Linked DNA regions of Homo sapiens: region 2 is linked to region 1. The links come from fine-mapping of genetic effects on gene expression. Tissue or cell type: whole blood. Region 1 holds a variant in brackets; the other region holds the start of a gene. All regions are shown on one strand. Distances are between the middles of the regions.

What was found. PIP is the estimated chance that this variant, and not a neighbour inherited with it, causes the effect.
Region 2: CRTC3 starts here. The variant in region 1 is fine-mapped to the expression of CRTC3 in whole blood (TOPMed, PIP 0.98).

What each region holds. Positions count from the first base shown.
Region 1 is chr15:90,631,844-90,641,698 of GRCh38, forward strand. It overlaps CRTC3 (CREB regulated transcription coactivator 3), which reads left to right. Exons shown (of 15, transcript NM_022769.5): 12 at 6,603-6,803; 13 at 6,892-6,972; 14 at 9,254-9,356. CRTC3-AS1 (CRTC3 antisense RNA 1) reads right to left here. Exons shown (of 4, transcript NR_120372.1): 3 at 9,199-9,414. It also overlaps the pseudogene HSPE1P3. Among named protein-coding and RNA genes, the nearest start is that of LINC01585, 23 kb to the right of the region's middle. RefSeq lists an enhancer at 8,881-9,855. The variant C/T (reference allele first, on the strand shown) is at 6,492.
Region 2 is chr15:90,524,464-90,534,318 of GRCh38, forward strand. CRTC3 (CREB regulated transcription coactivator 3) reads left to right here and starts at 5,460. Exons shown (of 15, transcript NM_022769.5): 1 at 5,460-5,740. The coding sequence starts at 5,609. RefSeq lists silencers at 4,914-4,963, 5,064-5,813, 5,834-6,013 and an enhancer at 6,404-6,563.

The DNA of each region.
Region 1 (9,855 bases):
AGGGCTGGAATTAGCCAGTGTGCCTTGTGCCAGGCATGAGCCACTGTGCCCTGCCATAATTTTTATTTTTTTTTAGAGACAGCGTTTCACTCTGTCACCCAGGCTCGAGTGCAGTGGCGCGATCACAGCTCACTGCAGCCTTGAACTCCCTGAGCTCAGGTGATCCTCCCACCTTAACCTCCCAAGCACATAGGACTACAGGTGTATACCATCACACCCGACTAATTTTTGTATTTTTTTTTTTTTGTAGAGATGGGGTTTCACCATATTGCCCAGGCTAGTCCATAATTATTGTTTTCGTGGTTCTTATGTTATTGAATTACCTTTAATTTTATTTTGCAAGATTATTTTATAAGATCTAAAAGTATTCTTGCTTTTTAGCTACATTTTAAGGAGACTGTATGGCCAGAGTGTCCCCTTTCAGATGTGTTTTTAATTTGTTTAATATTTAGATTTTTTTTAAATGAATGTTGCTGGACACAGTTGTTCTGACTGTAATCCCAGCTACTCAGGAGGCAGAGACTGGAGGATTGCTTAAGGCCCGGAGTTCAAGACCAGCCTTGGCAACATAGTGACACCCTATCTATCTCTTAAAAAAAGGAAATTTTAAAAAGTGAATGTTATTCATGCACATAGTTTAAAAAGTAAAATAGTTCTAAAGGGCTTGTTATAGAAAAACAGCTGTCTTTCCCTCTCGTTAGGCATATTCCTCACTGCCTAGAGATGGCTGTCAACCATTTTAACTAATCTCTTTGGTATAACCATGTTATTATTATTTTGAGACAGAGTCTTGCTCTGTCACCCAGGCTGGGGTGTAGTGGTGCGATCTCAACTCACTGAAACCTCCACCTCCCAGGTTCAAGCGATTTTCCTGCCTCAGCTTCCTAAGTAGCTGGGACTACAGGCATGTGCCACGACGCCTGGCTACTTTTTGTATTTTTAGTAGATACAGGGTTTTACCATGTTAGCCAGGCTGGTTTCGAACTCCTGACCTCAGGCAGTCTGCCCGCCTCGGCGTCCCAAAGTGCTGGATTACAGGCATGAGCCACCTCACCCAGCCTAACCATGTTGTTTTATGCTTTTTTTGTTCTACATTTTTGGTGTTAGGCATTATCTAATGACATCCTACCAATGAAGATTAGAATTTAATTCTCTTTCCACTCTCCCACAGACTCCACCACACACATATGTGCGCACATGTGCACACACAATTTCCTACCCACCCTCCTCATTTATTATAATTTTGGTTAGAGCAATACTCAATATTTAGTGTTTTTATAGTTACAATGTAGTCAGAGTTGACATATAGTATACTATGAAACAAGAAAATGAGAATTTTTTTTCCTCTTGGGAGTTAATAAATGTCTGACTTTTTTTATTAGCCTGGTTATCTATATGTATCTATGTGTATGACTAATTCAGTCCCCAACTCTTGGAGTTGGGCAGATCTCCTCTCGACACATTCAAAACTAAATTCTCTAGTAGCTCTATAGCAAAGAGTGCCTGTGACTTTGTATGACTTAAAATGTCTTTATTTGATCTGCCATTTAATTATTATTTGGCTGAATATAGAATTCTAAATTTGAAATAATTTTCCCTTGGCATCTATTGCCTATTCATTTGTAAGTTGCATTGAGAAATCCAGTGCCATTCGGACTCTTAACACTTTGCATGGAATCCCCCTGCTCCACCCCAGGCTTGTGAGATCTTTTTGTCCCCAGTGTTCTGAAACTTCAAGATGATGTGGCTTGGCGTGAGTCTGCATATTTGGTGGGTTCCTTCAATCTGGAAACTCACAGCCTTCATTTCTGGGAAATGTTCTTTATTTCTTCAATGATTTCTTCCCTTCAGTTTTCTCTGTTCTTTCTCTCTGGAACTCTACGAATGTTGACTATCCTGGACTTTTCCTCTATTATCCTTATCTTCTCTCTCTCCTCTTTTGCTTCTCTGTGGTTGCTTCCTTGTTTGTTTGTTTTGCTTTGCTTTCTGGAAGATTGTCTCAGCTTTATCTTCCAACACTTCTGTTGAGTTTTCCATTTCTGCTCTCATTTTTAAATTGCTATGAGTTCTTTTTTGTTCTCTGAGTGTTCTTTTTTAATAGCATCATACTTATTCCACAGATGCAATATCATCTTTTATCTCTCAGGTTTTTAGTGGTCTTTTTTTTTCGAATTTATCTTTATTTTCTATAATAGAATTTTCCTAAATTGCATAAAAGTAGAGAACATAATACAATAAGTCCTCCTATACCCATCATTTACCCTCAACAATTAATTTTTTTTTTTTGAGACAGGGTCTTGCTCTGTTGCCCAGGCTGGAGTGCAGTGGTGTGATCTCGGCTCATTGTAACCTCCGCCATCCAGGTTCAAACCATTCTCCTGGCCTCAGCCTCCCGAATAGCTGGGACTACAGGTGCACACCACCACACCTGGCTAATTTTTGTAATTTTTAGTAGAGACGGGATTTCACCATGTTGGCCAGGCTGGTTTCAAACTCCTGACCTCAGGTGATCCACCCACCTCAGCCTCCCAAAGTCTGAGATTACAGGCGTGAGCCAGCACGCCAGCCTTGTTATCTTGTTTCATCCATACCCTGCTTTTAAAAATTGCAGATATTTTAATATGTATCTCTAATAGATAAGGATTTTCTTAGTAGCCTAAATATTGTCATGCTGATTTTGGTTTTTCACAACTACTTCTTCCTGCACACATCTTTCCAAGATTGTGTGTGTCTGCTCTGGCCTCTGACTTTCACGGCAGATGGTTTCCTCAGGGCCTGGTGATCCTCAGTGCTCTGCTCATGTTTAAGAACAGGACACTGAGGGGCTGTCTCCTTGCGGCTCTACACTAGAGCGGAGTATGAGACTGAGGCGAAGGGAGTCATGGCAGGACAAGCGTGTAGAAAGTTTTTTCCACTCTCTGACTGAGTATTGGTTGGAAGGAGCGCTGCTAAAACTGTAACCAAAGGAGGCATTTTGCTTCCAGAAAAATCTCAAGGAAAAGTATTGCAAGCAACAGTAGTCACTGTTGGATCGGGTTCTAAAGGTAAGGCTGGAGAGATTCAACCAGTTAGCGTGAAAGTTGGAGATAAAGTTCTTCTCCCAGAATATGGAGGCACCAAAGTAGTTCTAGATGACAAGGATTATTTCCTATTTAGAGATGGTGACATTCTTGGAAAGTACATAGACTGAAATAAGTCACTACTGAAATGGCATCAGTGTGAAGCTGCCCATTCCACTGAAGTTCTGAAATCTTTCATCATGTAAATAATTTCCATATTTCTTATAATAAACTAATGATAACTAATGACATCCAGTGTCTCCAAAATTGTTTCCTTGTACTGATATAAACATTTCCAAATAAAAATATGTAAATGAGAAAAAAAAAAGGACACTGAGAAGCTGGCTGGCAGCTCTGTGTATGTGGGCAGGCCTGCTGAGTGTGGTCTTCATTGTAGAATGATCTAGCTTGGTCATTTCCTTGGGAAACTCCTGGTGTCATAAGTTTTACATTCTTCTCTGGCCAGGCGTGGTGGCTCACACCTGTAATCTCAGCACTTTGGGAGGCCGAGGCGGGTGGATCACCTGAGGTCAGGAGTTCGAGACCAGCCTGGCCAACATGGTGAAACCCCGTCTCTACTAAAAATACAAAAATTAGCCAGGCGTGTTAGCATGCTCCTGTAATCTCAGCTACTCGGGAGACTGAGGCAGGAGAATTGCTTGAACCCAGGAGGTGGAGGTTGCAGTGAGCCAAGGTCATGCCACTGCACTCCAGCTTGGGTGACAGAGCAAGACTCTGTCTCCAGAAAAACTCTGTCTCCAGAAAAAAAGATTTTCTCTCTTCAGGCCTTGTCAGGTTCCCTAAAGGACACTCTTCCAATGTCGCACCTCGGCATATCAGGATTCCGGCATCCTGTGAGCCGGGTTGGGAAAGAAAGGTGGAGATCTTAAGATTCGATCGTGAAATTTCTTCTAAAGAATAAAATACCTAGGAATCCAACTTATAAGGGATGTGAAGGACCTCTTCAAGGAGAACTACAAACCACTGCTCAATGAAATAAAAGAGGATACAAACAAATGGAAGAACATTCCATGCTCATGGGTAGGAAGAATCAATATTGTGAAAATGGCCATACTGCCCAAGGTAATTTATAGATTCAATGCCATCCCCATCAAGCTACCAATGACTTTCTTCACAGAATTGGAAAAAACTACTTTAAAGTTCATATGGAACCGAAAAAGAGCCCACATTGCCAAGTCAATCCTAAGCCAAAAGAACAAAGCTGGAGGCATCATGCTACCTGACTTCAAACTATACTACAAGGCTACAGTAACCAAAACAGCATGGTACTGGTACCAAAACAGAGATATAGACCAATGGAACAGAACAGAGCCCTCAGATATAATGCCACATATCTACAACCATCTGATCTTTGACAAACCTGACAAAAACAAGAAATGGGGAAAGGATTCCCTATTTAATAAATGGTGCTGGGAAAACTGGCTAGCCATACGTAGAAAGCTGAAACTGGATCCCTTCCTTACACCTTATACAAAAATTAATTCAAGATGGATTAAAGACTTAAATGTTAGACCTAAAACCATAAAAACCCTAGAAGAAAACCTAGGCAATACCATTCAGGACATAGGCATGGGCAAGGACTTCATGTCTAAAACACCAAAAGCAATGGCAACAAAAGCCAAAATTAACAAATGGGATCTAATTAAACTAAAGAGCTTCTGCACAGCAAAAGAAACTACCATCAGAGTGAACAGGCAAACTACAGAATGGGAGAAAATTTTTGCAATCTACTCATCTGACAAAGGGCTAATATCCAGAATCTACAAAGAACTCAAATTTACAAGAAAAAAACAAACAACCCCATCAAAAAGTGGGCGAAGGATATGAACAGACACTCTTCAAAAGAAGACATTTATGCAGCTAAAAGACACATGAAAAAATGCTCATCATCACTGGCCATCAGAGAAATGCAAATCAAAACCACAATGAGGTACCATCTCACACCAGTTAGAATGGCAATCATTAAAAAGTCAGGAAACAACAGGTGCTGGAGAGGATGTGGAGAAATAGGAACACTTTTACACTGTTGGTGGGACTGTAAACTAGTTCAACCATTGTGGAAGTCAGTGTGGCGATTCCTTAGGGATCTTGAACTAGAAATACCATTTGACCCAGCCATCCCATTACTGGGTATATACCCAAAGGATTATAAATCATGCTGCTATAAAAACACATGCACACATATGTTTATTGCAGCACTATTCACAATAGCAAAGACTTGGAACCAAGCCAGATGTCCAACAACGATAGACTGGATTAAGAAAATGTGGCACATATACACCATGGAATACTATGCAGCCATAAAAAATGATGAGTTCATGTCCTTTGTAGGGACATGGATGAAGCTGGAAACCATCATTCTCAGCAAACTGTCGCAAGGACAAAAAACCAAACACCACATATTCTCACTCATAGGTGGGAATTGAACAATGAGAACACATGGACACAGGAAGGGGAACATCACACACCGGGGCCTGTTGTGGGATGCGGGGAAGGGGGAGGGATAGCATTGGGAGATATACCTAACGTAAATGACGAGTTAATGGGTGTAGCACACCAACATGGCACGTGTATACATATGTAACAAACCTGCATGTTGTGCACATGTACCCTAGAACTTAAAAAAATAAAATATTAAAGAAAAAGAAATTTCTTCTAAACCCTGTGTTTTCAGTAAAGTGCCTCACCTTCTAATATCCAGAGACCCTTAGTTTTATTATCTCGAAAGTAGAACCTTCCAGTCTCCTGGCAGGTGGCAGGATGGTGGGGGCCAGTGCGCAGAAGCACACTCAAGGCAAGGGCTCTGCAGGTCCAACTGCCCCTTACACAAACTGTGACCAGAATCTCCTGGTTTTAGCTTCACCGCCTGCTCCCTGCTGTCCCCAGTCCCAGAGCCCTGTGGGGACTGAGTGCTGTCAGTGAGATTGCCTCCTGGTTTTTCCTCACTGCCAGCCTAGCATCGGGTTTTCTCAGCTCTGCTAAGCCAGCTGCCACCGGGCCATCTGCTGCTCATTTTCCAGCTTTTGTTGCCATTTTCTTCTCTCCCGTTATCTTTGTCCTCGTGTTGTTTGTTATCATTTAGTGTTCTGTGCTGTTGTTTAGTGTTTTTTATTAATGCTTATTGCTTGTTAATGTTGTAGTGTCTTGTTTTAACAGGATTTGGGGATGACAGAGCTAAGGGCCTTTTTCAATTTTCCACTTTTAACCAGAAGACACGGCTATAAAACAAAACAAAACATGATTTTCACGGAGAAAACTGAAAGGAAATTGGTTAAATTGGCTGTTTTCTTGTTTAGTTCTTTTAAGACAATAGAACTTGTCATTGAATGGAACATGCTTTGTGGGGAAGTAAAATTTGAGATATACTTTGAAGGATGAGAAACGGGCTTCTCACAGCATTGCACAGAACAC[C/T]GCGGTGAGGAAAATCTCAGGCTTCCTCTCACTCTGACATTTCCTAATCCTAAAGGACTTAACGCCAGAAACGCAGAAGCTCATTAGTGGCTTTGTGTGTTTGTTTTGCAGATGGTGTCCTCAGACCGAAGCCAACTTTCCTTTCTGCCCACAGAAGCTCAAGCCCAGGTGTCGCCGCCACCCCCTTACCCTGCACCCCAGGAGCTCACCCAGCCCCTCCTGCAGCAGCCCCGCGCCCCTGAGGCCCCTGCCCAGCAGCCCCAGGCAGCCTCCTCACTGCCACAGTCAGACTTTCAGCTTCTCCCGGCCCAGGTGAGTTCTGGCAGGAGCGTTGGTGCAGAGGGAATGCTTGTTTTGCTCTGAGTTCCAAGCTAAATGATCATCTCCTTATTCCCTGAAGGGCTCATCTTTGACCAACTTCTTCCCAGATGTGGGTTTTGACCAGCAGTCCATGAGGCCAGGCCCTGCCTTTCCTCAACAGGTGGGTGATCGCCCCTGCCTTCTCCTCCCTTGGTGCATAAACTGTACCATTTAGGTTGTTCATTCTGTAGAATTCAGAACTGAGCAGACCAGACATGCCACTTTCCTGGTTCTGGTTGTGTTCTGTGGCTAGAAGAGCCTTTCATCTTCTTTGGCCCTAAAATGCTTTCTCTGGCTGCCTTATTTAGTATCAGGCTTCAGCAGAGGAACTATTGGAACAATCGGCAGGAGACTTTTGATGACACTCTCGTTGTAGAACTGTAAAATCATGAACACTGGAAGGGACACAGCACCTGCCTCCTCAGCGCCCTCATGTTGAAACTGAGGCATAGGGAGAGTGGCGCCTGCTCCCACCGCAGAGTCAGAAGGTGGCGCCGCATTTGGCCTGCACCCAGGCTGGTGCACCCAGCACAGCGTGGGGCCTCCTGGGGAGAGCTCAGTCCTGGGGAGTGAGGGGAGTGCGTTCCGTAAGGTATTTTCAACTCGGCCACTTTCTTTTACAGTTTAGTTTTTTCCTAACATTGACTATTTTTAATATTCTAGATTTTATAGTATTCAATAGTATTCAATAAGTATGGACTGGGCCCTCCGATGGATTAAGGAGTGGAAGAAGGGTTGAACAGGTTCCAGAACTTTTTTTTTTTTTTTTTTTTGAGACAGAATCTTAATCTGTCGCCTAGGCTGGAGTGCAGTGGCGTGATCTCGGCTTACTGCAACCTCCACCTCCTGGGTTCAAGTGATTCTCATGTCTCAGACTCCTGAGTAATTGGGGTTACAGGCATGTACCCCTACACCTGGCTAAATTTTATATTTTTAGTAGAGATGGGGTTTCACTTTGTTGACCAGGCTAATCTTGAACTCCGGACCTCAAGTGATCCACCCGCCTTGGCCTCCCAAAGTGCTGGGATTACAGGTGCGAGCCACTGTGCCCAGCCAAGAACTTAATAAAATAGCTGGGCATAGTGGCTCACGCCTGTAATCCCAGCAGTTTGGGAGGCCGAGGCGGGCGGATCATGAGGTCAGGAGATCGAGACCATCCTGGCTAACACGGTGAAACCTTGTCTCTACTAAAAAATACAAAAAAATTAGCTGGGCGTGGTGGCAGGCACCTGTAGTCCCAGCTACTCGGGAGGCTGAGGCAGGAGAATGGCGTGAAGCCGGGAGGCGGAGCTTGCAGTGAGCTGAGATCGCACCACTGCACTTCAGTCTGGACAACAAAGCAAGACTCTGTCTCAAAATAAGTAAATAAAATAATAATAATAAAATAAATTAAGATAGCTGTTTCCTAAGCAGGCCACAGATGAAGCTTTGTGGCAAGAACCAATCCTCCTTGCCTCCCTGTTTCCCAAAGAGCCATTTTAGTCTAGGTGGGAATCACCGTCTCCCTGAAAAATGATAGACACTTCTTTTGAGACTTTTTTTAAAATGGCTTAGAAAATTAATTTCAGGAAAGGAACCTAAAATTGGCACTGGTTATAACCAGTCCTCATAGAGGCTTTCTCATAGGGAGGAGCTTGCCTGAGTTTCCTCCTTCTGAGTGTGAAAAGGAAAGCCTTCCCCTTTCTCAGTTTTCTAGAAACCAGGGAAGAGGCCAGGTGCAGTGGCTCACACCCATAATCCCAGCACTTTGGGAGGCCAAGGCCAGTGGCTTACTTGAACTCAGGAGTTTGAGACCAGCCTGGGTAAAATACAGCAAGACCCTGTCTCTAAAAAAAATACAAAAATTAGCCAGGCATGGTGGCATGTGGTCCCAGCTATTTGGGAGGCTAAGGTGGACGGATTGCTTGAGCCTGGGAGCTGGAGGTTTCAGTGAGCCGAGATGGCGCCATTGCACTCCAGCCTGGGCAACAGAGACCCTATCTTTAAAAAAAAAAAGAAGAAAGAAACCAAGGAAGAAGAGTCCATACTTCCTTGGTTATAGACAGAGCCTTTGAAGGGTTCCCACAGAAGGCAGTTTGCAAAGGCCTTGGTGAGGCTGAGGACAGATGTCTGAGGGGCCACAGAAACCATGAGCATTGGTGTCTCTTGGGATGGTGTAGTGGGCTGGGGAAAAGTCACCACGCTGTGGACCTCAGGGACCCCTCCTCCACCCCAGCGTCTGCCTGCCTGACAAGAATATTGTGCATGCATTACCATAAGAGCAAAGCACTCTGGGATCCTGGAAAGAAGGGAATATGGATTAGTTTGCAAGTCAGGTTTTGCTCTGGGAGCACATTGCAATACTCACTTCCTCCTTGGAAACAGAGGTGTGGCCTTCCTCACATGACCTTCGATGCTTCCAGGTGCCTCTGGTGCAACAAGGTTCCCGAGAACTGCAGGACTCTTTTCATTTGAGACCAAGCCCGTATTCCAACTGCGGGAGTCTCCCGAACACCATCCTGCCAGGTGAGCGAGCTATCCCTCAGCTTCTTTACTGCTTTTATGTTGTTGTGTGTTCAGGAACCTTCATAAGAGAGTTTAAACAACATAATATTATATAAAGCAAAAAGTTAACGTTCCCTGGGTCGACTTGACTTTTTGAGATGCAGGTGTCCAGCCTCAGAGACCGTGACACAGGGCGGTGGGCCTGGTAGTCAAAGCCTTTTCTGAAAGATTTCATCTGGCCCAGTGCGGTGGCTCACGCCTGTAATCCCAGCACTTTGGGAGGCCGAGGTGGGCGGATCATCAGGTCAGGAGATCGAGACCATTCTGGCTAACACAGCGAAACCCCGTCTCTACTAAAAAATACAAAAAAAATTAGCTGGGCATGGCGGCGGGCGCCTGTGGTCTCAGCTACTCGGGAGGCTGAGGCAGAATGGCACCAACCCAGGAGGTGGAGCTTGCAGTGAGCCGAGATTGTGCCACTGTACTCCAGCCTGGGCAACAGTCTCCAAAAAAAAAAAAA
Region 2 (9,855 bases), 110 kb before region 1:
CTCCATCTCAAAAACAAAAAACAATAAACCAAAAAAAAAAAAACCAAAAACAAACAAACAAAAAAACAGGTCACCTACAAAGGAAAAGGAAACCGAATGTGAGTGGCCTTCTCAGTAGCAACACTGAAAGTGAGAAAACAGTGACCCAATGCATTCAAAGATCTAAATGAAAAGCATTTCCAGAGAAGCCCTACTCTTAGCCAAGCTAATAATCAAACAGGAGGGTAAAATAAAACCATCTTCACACACAGTCTCAGAGATTTTATCTTTCACGTACCCTTTTTCTCTCCAGGAAACTATTGGAGAATGTACTCCACCAAAGTGAAGGTGTACACATGGCAAGACGACAACCTGGGATCCGGGAAGCGGAGGTGAGAACACAGGAGGCGGAGGGAAGCTTGGGGTGATGGTGAGGGGGACTGCACCACAGCAGTGCTGCAGGCTGGGGAACAGCCCAGGATGCAGCCAGAGGGCACAGCGCTCCAGAAAAGAAGCTTCCCCCAAAACCAGTCATTCATAGATTCAGTCATATGTTTCATAGCTCTGTCGGAGTTTGGGAAAGGATGAATAATGGCTTGAGAGAAATCTAAGCAAATCAATAACAGAGGCAATTTTTAACTCCAAAAAGAAATTTGTACCAAAATAGAACTATGCTACACTATGTGAACGCTTAATATTGCCAAGCACAGTGGCTCATACCTGTAATCCCAGCACTTTGGGAGGCCGAGGCGGGAGGATCCCTTGAGCCCAGGGGTTCGAGACCAGCCTGGGCAACATGGTAAGACTTCATCACTACAAAAACTGAAGAAACTTAGCCAGGTGTGGTGGTGCGTGCCTGTAGTCCCAGCTACTTAGGAGGCTGAGGTGGGAGGATTGCTTGAGCCCAGAAGGTCGGAGCTGCAGTGAGCCAAGATCATGCCACTGTACTACAGCCTGGGTGACAGAGTGAGACCCTGTCTCAAAATAATAACAATAATAATTTAAAAACCACTTAATATTGATTTACCAAGAATGATCACATAACTACATTGAAAGAATGAGGTCAGGGAAAATTATATTTTTGTTGGGGCATAAAATGGCCAAATCATCATTTTCTATGGTAGAAAATGAACAGTTAACTATCTAAAATTTTAAAATATCATAAAACAGCAGGATTAACTTCATTTAAAGTAGGACTTGGGGGCCATGTATGGTGGCTCATCCCTGTAATCCCAGCACTTTGGGAGGCTGAGTTTGGGGGATCACTTGAGCCCAGGAATTCAAGACTAGCCTGAGCAACATAGGAAGACCTTGTCTCTACTAAAATTAAAAAAAAAAAACAACAAGCCAGGGATGGTGCCACGCACCTGTAGTCCCAGCTACTGAGGAGGCGCTGAGGTGAGAGTGTCTGAGGCTGCAGTGAGCCCTGATCTTTCCATTCACTGCACTCCAGCCTGGGTAACAGAGCAAGAGACCCTGTCTCAAAAAAAAAAAAAAAAAAAAAAAAAGGACTTGAGAAATCTTTTTACGATTGTAAGCCTATAAATTTCACTTCTTAAATAATTCACATTTTTTGATTAGAAAATTATCCCAGCTTCTCAGGAAACTGAGGCAGGAGGATGGCTTGAGCCCACGAGTTCAGGTCCAGCCTGGGCAACACAGTGAGACCCTGTCTCTAAAAAAAAAAAACCAAATGTAATATGATTAAGTTAATCAAATAAGAACAGAAGTAGAATGAATATACTCCAAATCAGATTCCAGAAACATGGAACCAGAGTGCAGCTATGACAGGTGCCTATGCTGGTGAATTGGTGGACAGATAATGGTAGATTTAGCTTAATACTCATCTCATCTCTATATATATATATATATATTTGTTTTTGTGAGACGGAGTCTCCCTCTGTCACCCAGGCTGGAGTGCAGTGGCGCGATCTCGGCTCACTGCAAGCTCCGCCTCTCGGGCTCACGCCATTCTCCTGCCTCTGCCTCCCGAGTAGCTGGGACTACAGGTGCCCGCCACCACCACGCCCCGCTAATTTTTTTTGTATTTTTAGTAGAGACGGGGTTTCACCGTGTTAGCCAGGATGGTCTCGATCTCCTGACCTCATGATCTGCCCGCCTTGGCCTCCCAAAGTGCTGGGATTACAGGCACGACCACCGCACCCAGCCTTTCATCTCAATATCTTTCTACAGTCCTCCCTACATTGCACAAGCTGAAAGGTCGAATCTACATTTCCTAGATGACCTTGTGGCAGGGATTTTGGACACAATTTTGGTTTTTCCAATCATTTCCTCTCATGAGATGTATAAGGTGGAGGTGAAGTGAAGTCTGTGTGTGCTATTTATGCTGGGGAGTGCTGTGGTGGAGGTGTTTGATTTTTTTTTTTTTTTTTTGAGACGGAGTCTCGCTTCGTCGCCCAGGCTGGAGTGCAGTCGGGTGATCTTGGCTCACAGCAACCTCTGCTCCTGGGTTCAAGCAATTCTCCTGTCTCAGCCTCCTGAGTAGCTGGGACTATAGGCGCCTGCCACCACGCCCTGCTAATTTTTATATTTTTAGTAGAGACCGGGTTTCACCTTGTTGGTCAGACTGGTCTCAAACTCCTGACCTCAGGTGATCCACCCACACCTCGGCCTCCCAAAGTGCTGGGATTACAGGTGTGAGCCACTGAGCCTGGCCTTTTTTTTTTTTTTTTTTTTTTTTTTTGAGACGGAGTCTCCCTCTGTGGCCCAGGCTGGAGTGCAGTGGTGTGATCTTGGCTGACTGCAACCTCCCCCTCCTGGATTTAAGCAATTCTCCTGCCTCAGCCTCCTGAGTAGCTGGGACTACAGGCACATGCCACCACACCTGGCTAATTTTTGTATTTTTAGTAGAGACAGGGTTTCACCATATTGGTCAGGGTGGTCTCAAACTCCTGACCTCAGGCGATCTGCCCGCCTTGGCCTCCCAAAATGCTGGGATTACAGGCGTGAGCCACTGCACCTGGCCGATGCTTGATATTTCTGCAGTGGCTTCTCATCATGATGATACCTGTATGGTTCAAGAGCTGGTAAGTGTAGAGACAGCTTTCCAATTTAGTAGATGGCTTCCTGATTTCAAAAGAGGCAGTGTCTCCTTTGGTGGCTCAGTATTGCAGCATAGCTCTCAAAGTCATTCCTCAAAGTTCAACCTGGAGTCGGTTGCTTCAGCCCTCCAAACAAGTCTGGAAGTCATTTTATACCCTGTAATATATTCTTTTGTACTTAAACCATCTAGAATGGTTCTGTTCTCTGAAACTTGACCCAAACAATGTAACAGAAAAGCAGAAATAAAATGTAAAGAAAAATGCTAGGCGCGGTGGCTCACGCCTGCAATCCCAGCATTTTGGGAAGCCGAGACAGGTGGATCACCTGTGATCAGCAGTTTGAGACCAGCCTGACCAACATGGTGAAACCTCGTCTCTACAAAAAATACAAAAAATTAGCCTGCGTGGTGGCGTGTACCTGTAATCCCAGCTACTCAGGAGGCTGAGGCAGGAGAATAGCTTGAACCCAGGAGGCAGAGATTGCAGTGAGCCGAGATTGCACCACTGCACTCCAGCCTGGGCGACAGAGCGCGACTCTGTCTTAAAAAAAAAAAAAAAAACTAGCCGGGCATGGTGGCGCAAGCCTGTAATCCCAGTTACTCGGGAGGCTGAGGCACAAGAATCACTTGAACTCAAGAGGCAGAGTTTGCAGTGAGCTGAGATCAGGCCACTGCACTCCAGCCTGGGTAACAGAGCAAGACTCCGTCTCAAAAACAAACCAACAACAAAAAAAAAGCATGGTAAATAACACAAAATACAACAGAAAAAAAAATCCAATTATAATTAATAAAAATAGCTAAATTCTAGCTAACAGAGATATATTTTCAGAATACATTTTCTAAAAAGTCCAGTTATAGGCTATGTCTGAGAGACAGGTGAAAAACATAATGGAATATTATCATATAAATGAATTGACACAAATATATCTCGAAAACATAATGGAGAATGAAAAAAGATGCAAAATGATTATTCAGTATGGTGTCATTTTTGTAAAGTTTAAAAACAAAATTAGGTATTCCATATAGCATTGCTGGATCTCTACATCATATGTAATAAAAGTATAAAAACACAAACTGGAATGATATGTACCAACTTGAGCACGGTGACTATCTGTGGGGCGGAAGAAGAAATGAGAGTGGGGCCGTCGTTATGACTAATTTTGTATGTCTTTAATAAATCCCAAGTACATGCAGCAAAATGTATTGATGTCTGTTTAATCTTGATAGTGGGGGGCGTGGGTAGTATTAATATTATTTTCCGTACTCTTCCGTAGGCCTCTAATATTTCCCTCTTTACAGAACACTGACACACGCTCAGGGCTCCCCGGGACATCTTTGTGCACATCAACATTTATGCTGAGAGTAGCTTCTGGACTCCAAAGAGGAAACTCCCCGGGCACTGTGGCCCACGCCTGTTATCCCAGCACTTTGGGAGGCTGAGGTGGGCAGATCGCTTGAGCCCAGGCGTTCGAGACCAGCCTGGGCAAAATAGCGAGACCCACCCCCGCCCCCCATTGCTACAAAAACATTTACAAACTAGCCGGGCGTGGTGACCCCCGCCTGTGGTCCCAGCTGGTCGGGAGGCTGAGGTGGGAGGATCTTTTGAGCCCGGGAGGTCAAGGCCGCGGTGAGTCGAGATCGCACCACTACACTCCAGACCGGGCGACAGAGAAAGACATCCATTCACTCCCCCAAAAGAAGGGGAAATTCGCTGAGGCTGAGCGCTGGTTTCCCAAGGTGGGGCTGGCACCTGCTGAAGCTGCCACAGGAGTGGAGAGGCCGTAGGGAGACTTGGAAAGAACCTGGAAAGGGGGCCGGGGCTATGGAGCCAAGGCTGCAGCAGGGCTGGATGGTGTTTGTAGTTTGTGCAGAATAGGAGGCAGTTTTTAAAGCCGAGATACAGCTCTGGTTGACTGGAGCGGGGAGGGGTGGGTGTGAGAGGTCAGGAAACCAGCGGCTGGAGGCCGGGGGCCTGGAGCGGCAGGGCTGGCGGGCAGACGTTAGGCCCCAGGCAAAATGGGCGCACCCCCTGCGGGGGCCCGAGGTGACCTGCTCGAGGTCCGGTCGCCCAGGTTCCACCTGGAGAAGAAAATCTTCGTAATTTGGCTGGGGGAGGGGGGATGCGGGCACAGGCTGTGTTCTCCACGTCGCGTAGACGCAGAGGCCATCCCTGGGTCGGAGAGTCTCCGTGGAGTGGCACCCCAGCGTTCCCCGTACGCCGGGGCCACTTTGTCGGGCTGACGGGGGTCCCTCCAGGTGGCCGCCGGCGGCGGGTCCCGAGCCAGACCGGGAAGCGGGGAGCAGCCCTCAGCCCGCGAGCGTGGGGCCGGGGCAGACTGGAGGCCGGGCGGGCCCCGCCGAGGGTGGGGCGGGGCCGGGCGCACGGGGGCGGACCTCGGCGCGCTCCCGGCCGCTCGCTGGCTCCGGGGCCGCGGCGGCTCCTCTGCCGGGTCGCGCCGGACGACTGGCTTCGGGCGGCGGCCCCGGCGGCCTGTGGACGGACGGGTGGGCCGAGGTACAGGCCCCACGGCCGCCGTCTCCCGCTTCTGCCCGCGCAGAGTCCGCGCCATGGCCGCCTCGCCGGGCTCGGGCAGCGCCAACCCGCGGAAGTTCAGTGAGAAGATCGCGCTGCACACGCAGAGACAGGCCGAGGAGACGCGGGCCTTCGAGCAGCTCATGACCGACCTCACCCTGTCGCGGGTGAGGGCCCGGGCCGGCGCGGGCGGGGGCGGCCACGGCCGCGGGCGGGACCCGCGCGGCGGGTGAGAGGTTGCGGGGCCAAGGCGATGGCGGGGCCGGGCGGGGGCCGCGCCCGGGAACCGGCGGCTGGGAGGGGGACCGGAGCGGCCGCGGCCTCGGCGTTTCCCCGCCTGGCGACACCCGCTAGCCGTTCGCGATCCCGGGCTGAGGTGGGAGGGTCGCCCGGCCCCGTGTGCGGGAAGATGGGCAGGGGTGAAGCCCGTGGAGGCGGGCGGCCGTGCGAGGGCGGCCTGAGGGGGAGGAGGACGAGGAGCCCCGAGAGGAAATCGCAAACAGCTCGGAGGCCGGCCGGGTGGCGCGGCGCGGCTTCTGGTCGCTCCGAACATCCCCCACCATCGAGCCCTGCTGTTCTGCCGGCGTGGAAGGCCGCGGGCACCCCAGGGTCCCACGCGCTCGTGGGGGGAGCTCTGTGCACAAGTCCATCCAGGGCCCGGCCCTGGGGTGGCTCGGGTTGTTGGAACCACGACGGGATTCCGTGTCGAGTGTGAGGCTCTGCTCCTTTTACTCCTTGGAGGTGCTTTATCGGGTCCAGTTTACTTTGTTCGGCCCGGGATATTTAGTGAGAACTGACAAGCGTCGCTGGTGACTGGAGAGGGACCTGGAGGAATGAGTAAGGCGCGAGCCGGGACAAACACCTGGAGAGGTTAGGTAACCGCTGAGTGAGGCAGTGGAGGATGGAGAGCCAACCGGAGTGTCCGCGCAGGGTTGCAGAGAAGGGGGGTCAGCAGGAGTGGGGCTGGCCTTGAGGATCCTGAATGCTGACCTTGGAGGACCATCGGGAGGATGGGGGAGGATCTGCAGATTCTGGGGGACTGAGGCGGGGGAGACAGTTTGAAGGAGAGCTGAGAGCAGAGTTGCAAACCAGCTGAGTTGCAGACACATTATTTTTTGGCCAGCGCAGTGTTTGGGAAAAATTATTGAATCTGTTGCCAGAATTTTTAAATTGGAAGACTTCCACACAAAATCCAAATTTCCGTATTATTTATTTATTATTATTTATATATGTTAAAAATTGGGAGACCTGGTAACACTAATTCTGAATTCCTACATGACAGCTACCGACCTGCTGGAGCTGGGTGATGATGAAAGGGAGCTGAGCTGAGCTCCCTTTCAAATGGAGTAAGAACTCTAGTTTGCCACCGTCCACTCTCTGTCACAGTCCCCCAAGGGGAGATTAGGTGACAGTTGCCATTTATACTCATGATGGTGTTTTCTTTCAGTGAAGTTAAGGAAAAAGTGAAATATTTCCTGTACTTACATTTCTGTTCACATTGAGAAAAAATATATATATAGAGAGAAAGAAGCTGAAGATTTCAAGAAAATGTTTTCTTATACCCTATCAGCTTCACTCATTTTTTACCTGCCTGGCATCCACTGGCATTTACATCTGTGACCTTGGTTAGATTCAGAGATGAACTCGATAAGCTCAGAGCACGTTGAAAAGAATGGGTGGGTGAAAGCTGAGGATTAGTGTTGGGGCCTGTGTTGTTATGTGTTTTTAAATACATACTGTACATTGTTTATGTACAAATACATGCACTGTATATGTCTGTATACCTATGGCGGATCCAATCTTTCACCCAATTCATGAATCTTCTTTAAAATATCCCTGACAGGTGAGGCCATGAGTAATGTACAGACTCTCTTTTAAAAGCAAAAATTTTTCACAGATCCTCACTGTTTACTTACTTTCAAGTAAAAAAAAAGTGTTTACTTACTTTAGAGACCCTGCTATAGCTCAGGGTCTCTTGAATTTAGCAAGCCTAATCAACTGTGGCCCATATGATAATTCAGTCACCACTTTATTCTAATTACTACAAAATTATGGTGTCATTTTGCCCTTCACCTGGTACAGGGAATCATTTACATATTAATTCTGCCCGTGTTTTCTTCTTGGCCAGTTACCAGTAAAGTAACACTGCTTGGCTCCACCGTGTTCATAAACACATCTGTAAATGATAACACTGAATTTGGCTACTAATGTTTGCTTATTTAAAAATCTTAAGGGTTATTTTCATGAAGAAATCACAAAATTAGAACACTTCTCATAGAGAACTCTTAGATTCCCAGCATGTCTATGAAGAATGCGTCTCTAAGGATCCAAAGATCCCAGTTGGAGGAGTATCTGCCTAGTTCATAATTGGTAACTGGGTGGCAGATATACTGACTTTTCATTACTAGCCCATGACAGACATGCTAATTCCTGACTTTTCATTACTAGCCCATGACAGACATGCTAATCGATAGGGCAGACATTACTGATCTATCTAGATGCTCTTTCCCCTCTGAGCCTGTGTTGGGATTCAAGTTCTTCTCTACATGATCAAAGCAATCCTTCAGAGTTGGCCTTACTTACCTATTCACCTAGGCGTTACTTATCCTATTCACCTAGTGGGTAGGATAGACTAGACTGTAGAGGATTTTCTCTAGCTTTAGAAGTCCGGCATTATCAGGAAGCAGTGGGAAAATTTTGAGAAGGGAGTACTAGGAGGAGGAGTTGAGTGGTGGTACCTGGAATGGTAAAGAGAGGGAGGAAAGTGGGGTCGGGCGTGGTGGTTCACGCCTGTAATCCCAGCACTTTGGGAGGCTGAGGCGGGCAGATCACGAGGTCAAGAGATCGAGACCATCCTGGCCAACATGGCGAAACCCCGTTTCTACTAAAAGTACAAAAATTAGCCTGGCATGGTGGCGTGCGCCTGTAGTTCCAGCTACTCGGGAGGCTGAGGCAGGAGAATCGCTCGAACCCAGGAGGTGGAGGTTGCAGTGAGCCGGGATCGCACCGCTGCACTCCAGCCTGGGCGACAGAGCAAGACTTCATCTCAAAAAAAAAAAAAAAAAAAAAAAAAAAAAAAAAAAAAGGCCGGGCGCGGTGGGTCACGCCTGTAATCCCAGCACTTTGGAAGGCCGAGGCGGGCAGATCACGAGGTCAGGAGATCGAGACCATCCTGGCTAACACAGTGAAACCCTGTCTTTACTAAAACTACAAAAAAATTAGCCGGGCATGGTGGCGGGCGCCTGTAGTCCCAGCTACTCGGGAGGCTGCGGCAGGAGGGAGGCTGCGGCAGGAGAATGGCGTGAACCCGGAAGGCGGAGCTTGCAGTGAGCCGAGATCGCGCCATTGCACTCCAGCCTGGGCGACAGAGCGAGACTCCGCCTAGGAAAAAAAAAAAAAAAGGGAAGAAAGTGGTTGCAGGTATGCCTGGGAAGAGGCTGTTCTGTTGTTCATTTATTAATGTATTCATTTGTCAGTATTTGAGTGCCTACTTTGTTGTTAATGGGGTGTGTGTTTGTGAGGGAGAAGAGTGAAAACATGGGGCTGTCCTTTAAAGATCTTACTGATTTGTTCCACAAATTTACTTACTGAGTGAGTCCTTAGTGTGTGCCAGGGGTTAGGATGGACACTGGGTATATAGTAATGAGCAAGCAAAACACAGTGTCCCAGTGGATTTTAGGATTTAATGAGGAAGACATTCATTTAATAAGTAAGGACACATTTTGGTGAATATCACCAAAACAGAAGTAGGTGGAGCTCTGGACCTGTATGGTAGGGAATTCTCACCTCTTCCAGTGGCCTAAAGGCTCAGGGGGAGTGGGGGAGGCATTCGAGGGTTTGTGTGTTGAGGGAGGGAATATGTTGCAGGTACAGAGAACAGAGATTCAGTAAAAGAGGATGAGGAGGGGATGTGAGATGAGGCTGGAGGCATTCATAGGGATCAGGTTGTAGAGACAGGATTTGGAACTTGATCTTAAGGGCAATGGGAAGTCACTGAAGGGGTTAAACTATGTGAGATTTGCTTTTTTAAAAGATTCCTCTAGCTCCAGCGTGGTGGGTAGAAGAGAGGAGGAGGAGGATTTTAGTAGGAGATGTGATAGTGGCATTTACTAAGATGGTGGCAGTCGGGAGGCAGAGCGGTGAGCAGATTGATACTTAGGAGGTGGAAAGGGCCAGATTTTGTGAATGGGTGAGGAAGGTGAGAAAGAGGGAGGGCTGGAACCATTTCAGGGTGTTCTTCATTAAGTGGACACTGGCAGGAGCAGGTTTGTGCGGAAATGCT